2 linked regions of the Homo sapiens genome follow. The protein of the gene in region 2 purifies or fractionates together with the protein of the main gene of each other region. This does not show direct contact. Each region holds a gene or a part of one and is shown on either strand. Other genes may lie near its edges.

Region 1 (5,060 bases), about 16 Mb from region 2:
TCCTTAACACCGTTGTAGAAGTAGCTGATGATATGTGTTGACACTAGAATAAGCAACATATAGGTTAGTAGGGCAGTGGGTAAACACGGGAGTTCTAAATTTCTTTAGAAGGTAAGATCTCAGAGATGTTTAGGAACTGACTTAAAAGTGGGAATAGGGAGAAAATCTCTAATACGGAAAATTATTATTGAGCTGACTCAGTGTATTTTGTATACCCTTGGTACATTTTTAATCCAGAATTATCTTCCCATCCTCAGAGTTTCTTCAGCTGTCAAAAGGTGTATGATCAAGACTACAAATTTCATTTAAAATTAATGTAGACTTAATAAACTTTAAAAGGGAAAATACCCTCTTTTAAAAACAACTTTTAGTTACCCACAGTCTTAAATCCTGGGTCTTAAAGCCTTAAAGCCTTGTCCATTGTAAGATTTTAGTTGAGTTCTTGAAGAAGATAATATTTGCTGTGCCGTCCTGTTTATACATATGGAACTCTACAATTAGAAATATAATTTTCTAAGTACCAAAACCTGAGGACAGACTGGTTTTGGTACTGTCATTGCTTTGATCCACTTGCTGTGGTAAAATTAATTAATCCCAAAATTATCATCTCTTGGGTTTCATAGGAAAATTACTGATAAAATGATTTAAAATAGCCATAAAAGGTATAGAATTACTGGGTTCCTGTATTATGAATTACCTTTTTTTTTTTGAGAAAGTCTCATTCCATCATCCAGGCTGGAATGCAGTGGCGCCATCTCAGCTCACTGCAACCTCTACCTCCTGGGTTCAAGCCATTCTCATGCCTCAGCCTCTTGAGTAGCTGGAATTACAGGCACACGCCACCACGCCTGGCTAATTTTTGTATTTTTAGTAGAGACAGTATTTTGCCATGTTGGCCAGGCTGGTCTCGAACTCCTGACCTCAAGTGATCTGCCTGCTTTGGCTTCCCAAAGTGCTGGGATTACTGGTGTGAGCCATTGTATCTGGCCTGTTTTAAGATTTTCTTAATCAGTCTTTGAAGCACCATAAATAGTAGGTGCCATTCTAAAGATAAGGAAACAGGCTAAAAAAATTTATAACCAAGGGGAGTTTATCCTAGGAAGACAAAGATTTCTCGACTGTGGGAAATTTAATGTAATCCATTATATTATGGTGATTGTTCCATTACACTCATATAAATTCATCTTGTTAGACTGTCAGTCTTTTTTTTTAATTATATAAAAAAATTTATAAAATAGAGACAGGGTCTCACTGTGTTGCCCAGGCTGGTCTCAAACTCCTGGGCTTAAGCAATCCGCTTGCCTCAGCCTCTCAAAGTGCTGGGATTACAGGTGTGAGCCACTGCACCCAGCCTGACTATAACTCTTTAAGTTGTCATCTCTGATTTTAAATAGTCACATAAATGATTTAAAAACTATAAAATAGCAAGGTAACTGTTAGGACAGTTTTTCTTTTCTTATGTAATTATTATTAATGAATTTTATGGTATGTTGGGTGAAACGTTCAAGATGGAAGTATTTTGTCTATAGGCGTAAGTACCAAAATATTATTTAGTGTTTTTTTAATAAGAAATACTGTTGTTTTATCCATAATAACAAGATTGAAAACTCTAATAATTCTTTTTAGTGATTTTATTTCTTACAAGTATTTTTATTATTTTAATTTGTACTTAAAAAATATGACCCTGCATACAGGTGCTACTGATACTTCCTATAATCTAGGAAGAATAATCTTTATTTTTGTTTCTTAGGTACAAACTGTTTTGAAGCCAGTTCATCATAAGGAAGGACAAGAACTAACTGCTTTGCTGAATACTCCACATATTCAGGTAGAAAATGGACAGAATACTATATATGTGGTTTTTCCAGCATTCTTCTATTTTTTTAAATCAAAGACTCCAGTACTGGAAGAGATGTCAAACATTCTCTAGCCTATTTTGATGTTTACAACCCCATCTATAACATAGTAGTTATTGTTGGATTATATATTTTCAGATTTAAAATGAACCAAATTATTTTTGAAACAACTTTTTCTTTAAAAATTAGGCAAAAATTCTTCCCCCCTTTGGTTGTATTTTCTGTAAGTTTAATTATCTAGGGTGTGTAGACCTTTACATTGATGTTATCTTCCGAAGTTTAGTAAGCATTTTAGACTTTCATAACCCATTCCAGAGTATGCCCTTAGTATACTTAACACATCTTTATTATTAGCTCTAATTAATTATAACACTTTTAAAGATTTAATGGTCAGAATACTATGTACATAGGTTAAAAATCACTCTGCAGAAATAAATCATGCTGTTACTTAAAATGCCATGGATTTCTTTGAAACAGGCACTTTTACTGGCCCACGATAAGGTTGCTGAGCAGGAAATGCAGCTAGAGCCCATTACAGATGAGAGAGTTTATGAAAGTATTGGCCAGTATGGAGGAGAAACTGTAAAAATAGTTCGTATAGAAAAGGCTCGTGATATTCCGTTGGTAAGTGTCCCACATACTGTTTTTAAACAAGTGCATTTTTCTGCTGTTGTGTGCTTCAAAAGTCTGGTTAATTTCAGAATTCTAATGAATAGAGTATTTCTGAAGCAGAAAGTGTGGGGGAAATGGTCAACTTTTAAATCTAATTACAATTACTCTAGTTGTGTAAATAAATTTTTTCTTAAGATAACTGAAGGTTAGTATTGTTGAATGGAAAAAATAGAATTTAAAAATAAATGCTTAACAAAAATTGTATTATTTTTATTTTTAAATTATACATATATATATTTTTAGGGTGCTACAGTTCGTAATGAAATGGACTCTGTCATCATTAGCCGGATAGTAAAAGGGGGTGCTGCAGAGAAAAGTGGTCTGTTGCATGAAGGAGATGAAGTTCTAGAGATTAATGGCATTGAAATTCGGGGGAAAGATGTCAATGAGGTTTTTGACTTGTTGGTAAGTTGACGCAGCTAGAAGAATAATTGATAGCTTTTAGAAAGCTCTTATTAGACTTTAGAATAAAATATTTTTAAAATAACTGTTAAGAGCACTAGATGATTTCTAGCCTGATTTTTCCATGATGTAACTGTTCCACAGTATTTGTTAGCAGTTTTATTTTTGGGTGGTACCACTGATATTTTTTTACTTTCTGATGTATCACTATCACATATATTTTATTTTTCTGGAATCAGTAATATAACTCATTAATTCACTCAGTACATATTTATTGAGTGCCTAATATGCACTAGCCACTTGGGAAACAGTAACAAAACAAAGTCTGTGTCCTGATGATTTTTTGTGTTCTTTTATTTTATTATCTGTAATTGATTGTTGTTTTCCTAATAATATTAGATAATAACAGTGCTATAGATCTGCAGTGTCCGGCATAATAATCACTAGCTGCATATAGCTATTTCTGTTTAAATTAAGTAAAATTTAAAATTCAGTTCCTTATTCGCACTAGCTGCATTTCAAGTGCTGAGAAGCAGTATGTAGCTAATGGCTACCATTATTAAGATACAGAAATAGCACATTTCCATCATTGGAGAAAGTTCTATTGGATAGTGCTAGTATAATCAGAAAATCATTTCTAGACATCTTTTGAGTGCAATTTATGATCACTTTGTACACACGCACAGACTAGATTTATGGTCCTAGTTATTCAGCATCTGTTATTACAGTGGAATCTGTACTATCTACTGATTCTGTTGTAAAATCTAGAGACATCTTCACACACTTATTTTCATCCAGCCCCATTCATTGCTTTGGTAGAGCAAAGTGCTGCTGGTCATTTAAGTCTGTGGAGGGGTTCTGAAATAGTCCAGTTTAGGGAATATAGATCATAAAATCATGGAATGATTTTCATAAATGCAAATTTAAAAAATAACCTGATCTTTCTATTACAGTCTGATATGCATGGTACTTTGACTTTTGTCCTGATTCCCAGTCAACAGATCAAGCCGCCTCCTGCCAAGGAAACAGTAGTAAGTGATTTTTAAATGTTCATTATTTATGTGTTTGTGGATGCTGTTTACTTCTGTTACTGTTTACTGTTACAGAAATGTCACTGTTTCCTGTACTCAAATAAATTCAATCATTTTTATTTAAATAAATATGAAATATCAATGTTTTAAATTAGTAAACTCTGCACCTTTTTTTTTGGAAGGTGGAAGATGGAATCTCCATCTGTTGCCCAGGGTAGAGTGCAGTGGTGTGATCTTGGCTCACTGCAACCTATGCCTTCCAGGTTCAAATGATTCTCCCACCTCAGCCTCTTGAGTAGCTGGGATTCCAGGCGCATGCCACCACACCCAGCTGATTTTTGTATTTTTGGTAGAGACAGGGTTTTGCCATGTTGGCCAGGCTGATCTTGAACGCCTGGCTTCATGTGATCTGCCTGCCTCGGCCTCCCAAAGTGCTGGGATTACAGGTGTGAGCCTTCACATCCAGCCAACTCTGCACCTTTTTAAAATAAAAAGTAGAAAATAATTTCAGTTTCAGAATTTTTTTTATAGTTATAGGTGGGTTTACTTAACTTAGTATGGAGTAGGGCAAGTGCTTTTTAAAAAGTATGTGTAACCCTTCTTTTAGAGTATATTGTTCTGTTAGACATTTACTCAGCTAGATCTGTTAAAAGTCAGTCTCCATTACCATACAGTCAAGCAATTGCATTCCAAAGTATATATCCAAAAGGACTGAAAACATATATTCACATAAGAATGTCTACATGAATGTTCATAGCAGCAGCATTCACAGTAGCTAGAAAGTAGTAACAACCCAAATGTCTGTCAGGTGATGAATCAAAGACAAAATATGTATGTATGATGGGATATTATTTGATAATTTTAAAAGCCTACAGTACTGATATATGCTACAACATGGATGAACCTTGAAGAAATTATGCTGAGCGAAGGAAGCCAGTCACAAAAGGCCATATATTGGTTCATTTATATAAAATGTCCAGAATAGGTAAATCCATAGGAGAGAAAGCAGATTAGTAATTCCTTAGATGTGGAGATGAGGATTTATGAGGGAATGGTGATTACTAATCAGTACCAAGTTTCTTTTTGAGGGCATAAGTAT
Region 2 (4,719 bases):
TATACACAGAGTATTTTGGTTAAGCAGAAACTAGCATTGCCATAATTTGTTCTTGATAATTAAACAAATAAAGCATCACCAAGCACCAACGTTTTCTAAGACATTTTCCAAAGTTTTAACAGACACTGGTTTTGTAAACTCCACAAAATGCATTACAACATGAATATAATTCATCTGTTACTTGGATGTGGAACTCAAATGAATCCTGGAGCTTTCTGGAAGATCACAAAAGAGGACATGGCACTGAGCGGGATGAAGGAGTCACAGGCATCACAGCATGCACTTCTGGTTTTCTGCTTATTGCTTATGTGCTTCTGTCACATACGTATCTTTGGCTTGCTACAACCTTATGATTTTGACCACTCCATCAGTGTTCACTTTGGGACAGCCTCAGGGAGGAAGCAATGGGTATACAGAGCAATCATCTCTCTGTTAAAAGAAGAGAGAATCTTCCCTCTTTCCTCTCCCAAACTATGAGCATTTTATGTGGGAGTGGTAAAAAATTTATAAGCAAACAAATCTAACATCTTTCACGTGATAAAAAAATGTGATGTTACATGTAACTGAACTAAAAAGCATCAGATGAGCAAACACACCACACTCCAATATTCTGAAGGCTTTGCAATCAGTAAAGCGCATTTCCTTCTGAAGGATCAGTGAACTTCCGGGCACTTGTCTTGCTGTACATTTTCTGTAGTTCTTTTACTTCTGTGTAATACTTAAAGTGCAATTGTTCCAAGGCTTTTGTTTCCATCATCACAAATATTATAAAGAAAGAGCTATGTTTAGGGTGAAGAAGATATGGCACAAGTAATATGTAAAGAACTTATGACTTTCGCATCCTCTAGCAAACAGTAAGCTGCCTGTACAGCTGCACACAGACGGACTTTACACAACAAACTCTGGAACTTCATCATGAGTGAGATCCAGAGAAAAGTATTTGCTGGTTCTTTTGACTGGAAAAGCATCTTGGATGTTGATGCACTGCTGGGCCAAGCAACTGTTGCAATAGAGGCCTTCCTCATCCAGTTCATGGCCACATCCAAAGGTGTAACTCTGAGCAGTGTCCTGACACAGACCTGCAATGCGCAGGAAGTCTTTCTGGTAAAGTCTGATGTCATCGAGGCTCAAGCTGTGTCGATCAGTGGAGGTCTTTGGTTTCCGACATATAGTCTGCAAGATAAGGGAAGGATGAAACAACTTTAAAGTGAAAGGTTAGAATATTTGCCTTGTAAAGAGAGATGCTACAGAACCACAAAAGGTTAAGTAATCCTTACATGTTAGAAAGTGGTTTCCAATCTGTGGTTTCTGGGCTGTATGGGGAAATATATCATCAACACCACCTCCATCAGTAATAATAGCAGCTAACATTTACCGAGCAATTACTATGTGCCAGGCCCTGACCTAAATACTCGGCATGCATTAACTCATTTAATCTTCCTAACAGTCCTAGGAAGCAGGCACTATCATTCTCCTCATTTTACAAATAATCCAAAGCACAGAGGTGCAAATACAACAGGAATCCAACTATCCCTAGCATTTCAGAAATCAAGTAATTATCTTGAAATAAGGTCATATAGGTAAAGACATGGCTTCCTTTTTTTTTTTCAGTAGGATATGGCAATTCAGACCTTTTAGGCCAAGGTCTGTTATTATTTTATTAAGAAATAGGAAAATAAACCAATTATTACCAAGAAACACAGTTTTTCTCTTTAAAAGGCCAGAATTCTTGGGTTGAATATAAAGTGTTCTTGGTGCTGGGTAGGATATAGGGTGTTCTTGGTGTTGAAGAGGCTGGGAGGCAGGCACCAGGACTAAGTTCCCGAACACGAGTCGGGGGTGGGGGGGTTCCGCCAAATGCTGTACACAGCAGGGGGCAGACTTTTTTTTATTATCCCAAGAGGTGGTATTAGAAATAGGTTAAAAATGATTCTGATAATTATATGAATGGAAGATATGCAATGGGTTATTTAAGGAAACCAGGTATTATATCTTTAAATTTTGCTGCTTCCCACCACAAAGGACAACCCTGTTAGAATAAGATACAATTTTTGCTAGAGGCAAAAGTTCCAGAAGCATGTTTTACTAGGAAGTGTCACATCCGAGTGATCCCTTGTGCTGATGCTGTCTTCCCAGACTCCAACAGGATTTCACACATAGAATCATTTGGTCATCCCCACAAACTCTCAAGGAAGGCACACAAAGTTCTCCCCATAGTGTAGGTGTGGAATCTGACTATCAGCTGTGCCCCAGAAACATCTCTTAAGAGTAGATTACTCATTGCAGTTTTCAGGAAAATATTTCATAAACATCATTTTCACATTATGGTTACTTCAACGCAAGTAAGAGAAAGAAAAGACAAATGAGAAAAAAGGGAGGAAAGAGGAAGAGAAAAGTAGGGACAAGGAGAGCCAGAATGCAAATGAAAAAAGAGAAACACACACAGAAGGGAAAAAAACAAGACACAAAGAGAGCCCAAGAAAGAAAGGCAGGAGGAGGGAGGAAGTGCTCAGGAATTAGGGCCATTAGTCATACATTACATCCAAATGCTGAAACCATGAGTTTCAGAGTATTTTATCTATATTGCTGGACATTTAATAGTTTAACCAATGATCACAGGTTGTCAAATGCTCTAGGCTCAGCATACTTTGAAAATTCAATCTGAATGGAATAACCAGAGTGTGGAAACATTTCTGCCAGAACACACTGACAAAAAATATTATTCTCCCAGGTTGAGGACAAGCAACACACACAGACACATGCATGTGCACACGTGGTTCGCCTGAAGCCTGAAGAACAGAGGCTTCCCAACCATATAAAATGTGAAGCAAAATCTATAACTTATCTAAGTAAAAATCAACTCAAAGATAAGCAGAACTAGCAAATAAGATGGAAATAAATTCAGAATAAAGCTAGAATGTACGTATCTAGGAAGGATCATTTCCTTAGGGTTTTTAATTTTTGCTCATTTGTATAAATGTAAGTTACTACTTAAAATTTTCTATAACTTCAGTTTCCTAACTGATATTTTTCAATTCCTTTAATACCTGTGGAAGAGAATCAGTACTCTGGCCACGAAGCTTAACAACTGTTTCTGAAGAGCTCGAGGTGGAAGACCCAATTTCTTTCACAATCAACCCTGAAATAAAACACAGAGATAAAAACAATAAATACTTCAAATTATTCACACCTCTTGCCATATATTCTGACATATTGCTATCAGGAATGAAAAATCAAATATTAACCATTACCAAAAAGTTTCACTGTGACTCTTTGGTGGCAGACAACCAGAACAGCACACACACTCTCTCTCATCTTACAGTAAATAGAGGTTAATGAGTCAAAGTAGGGTTAGAGTGTAAGAAGATGTTTAGTCTGAATTTTCTAAAACAAACTTCTAATTAAGCTATTTATGATGAAGTTATAGAAAAGAAGCAAAGACTATAGGTATAAAGCAGCCTCTTTACTGCATCTCATAAAGCTTCCCCTCTTCCCCTTTCTATTCAGCAGCAACATTAAACTTAACCCTTACTGAACACATGCCTTCTAGATTTGGTTCGGCTTGGATGTATAGTGGTGAATTGTGGGGGCTCTGGCCTCTGAAGTCAGATAGATCTGGCTGGATCCTGGCCCAGATAACTAATTAGCCATGTGTCCTGGCCAGTTACTTAGCCTCCCAGTGTCTCAGTCTCCTTCTCGTATAAAATCGGGCCAATAACAGCACCTGCCTGCTAGTTTTAATAATTACACAGTGAATGCATAAAAGGGTGAGGTACAGGGACTATACATGGATACACTCAGTTCACAGCAGCTCTTTTTGGGTGATGGGACACTTGGCACATACCTCCTGCAGCAGATCCCCCTGGGAGGAGACAAACTGGGAGGCCACAGTGAAAATTCAGTACTGGGTCTTTGAGAACAACAGAGCACCTAACCTAAGCACTTTAGCACTCGGTGGAAACCCGCCAAAATTTCAGAAGCAGAAATCCAGGGCTGACATTTCCCTATGTGACTGGCATATGAGTGAAGCACTGAGTAGAAACATGTCTCAGAAGGTAAAATTACCAATAAGAACTAGAGGTGTAAGTGAACACCGCTGAAATTTTTCTTGCCAATGGATGAAGCAAGTGTACTACAGGTCAAGCCCTAGATCCATAAGGCCAAATGGCTTCTTAAAAAAAAAAAACAAAAAACCCTTTAAGTAATGTGATTCTTATTCAACTACTGCTAGTAGTCTACAGAATGACTTGTGTTCTATCCCTTAACTCTTTAGAAACATCTCATAATGACTCAGTGTCTAGCATATGCCATAAACATATTAAGTATTCAATAATTAGTTCAATTGAAACATGAAATATGAAGACATTACTGGTTTACAAGTAGACACTTTAAAAACTCAGGGGATACTCATGTTTTAGGAGTTAGTACAAATGGCTTTAGTAGAGGATCTAGAACGATCTTTATCTTCTAAAGAGCATTAAACCTTTAAACAAGTTGTCATGGTTCCTTTTCGATTTCCTGGTAAATGTGCCCTCAGCTATCATGCCTGTAAAGAGTATTCTCCAAACTCAGACCCACCACTGGAAAAGTCAACACCGAGCTGATGCTCAAAACACTTAACCAACTCCTATCAAACTCTGTAAGAATGAAAGACAGTGTGGTATACTTCATCACTACTCAATCTTAGCTGAGTGTTTTTTTTTTTTTTAAAGATATGGA

What was found.
Region 1: the proteins of FRMD6 (region 2) and PALS1 purify together in Homo sapiens (co-immunoprecipitation; one large-scale study listed by IntAct). This does not show direct contact.

What each region holds. Positions count from the first base shown.
Region 1 is NC_000014.9:67,299,639-67,304,698, forward strand, and holds part of PALS1 (protein PALS1), read left to right. Parts: intron 1-1,750; coding exon 1,751-1,828; intron 1,829-2,333; coding exon 2,334-2,480; intron 2,481-2,771; coding exon 2,772-2,933; intron 2,934-3,883; coding exon 3,884-3,961; intron 3,962-5,060. UniProt on the Homo sapiens protein: Plays a role in tight junction biogenesis and in the establishment of cell polarity in epithelial cells.
Region 2 is NC_000014.9:51,724,199-51,728,917, reverse strand, and holds part of FRMD6 (FERM domain-containing protein 6), read right to left. Parts: intron 3,140-4,719; coding exon 3,048-3,139; intron 1,314-3,047; coding exon of another isoform or gene 1,281-1,313; exon of another isoform or gene 1,174-1,280; coding exon 889-1,173; 3' UTR 1-888.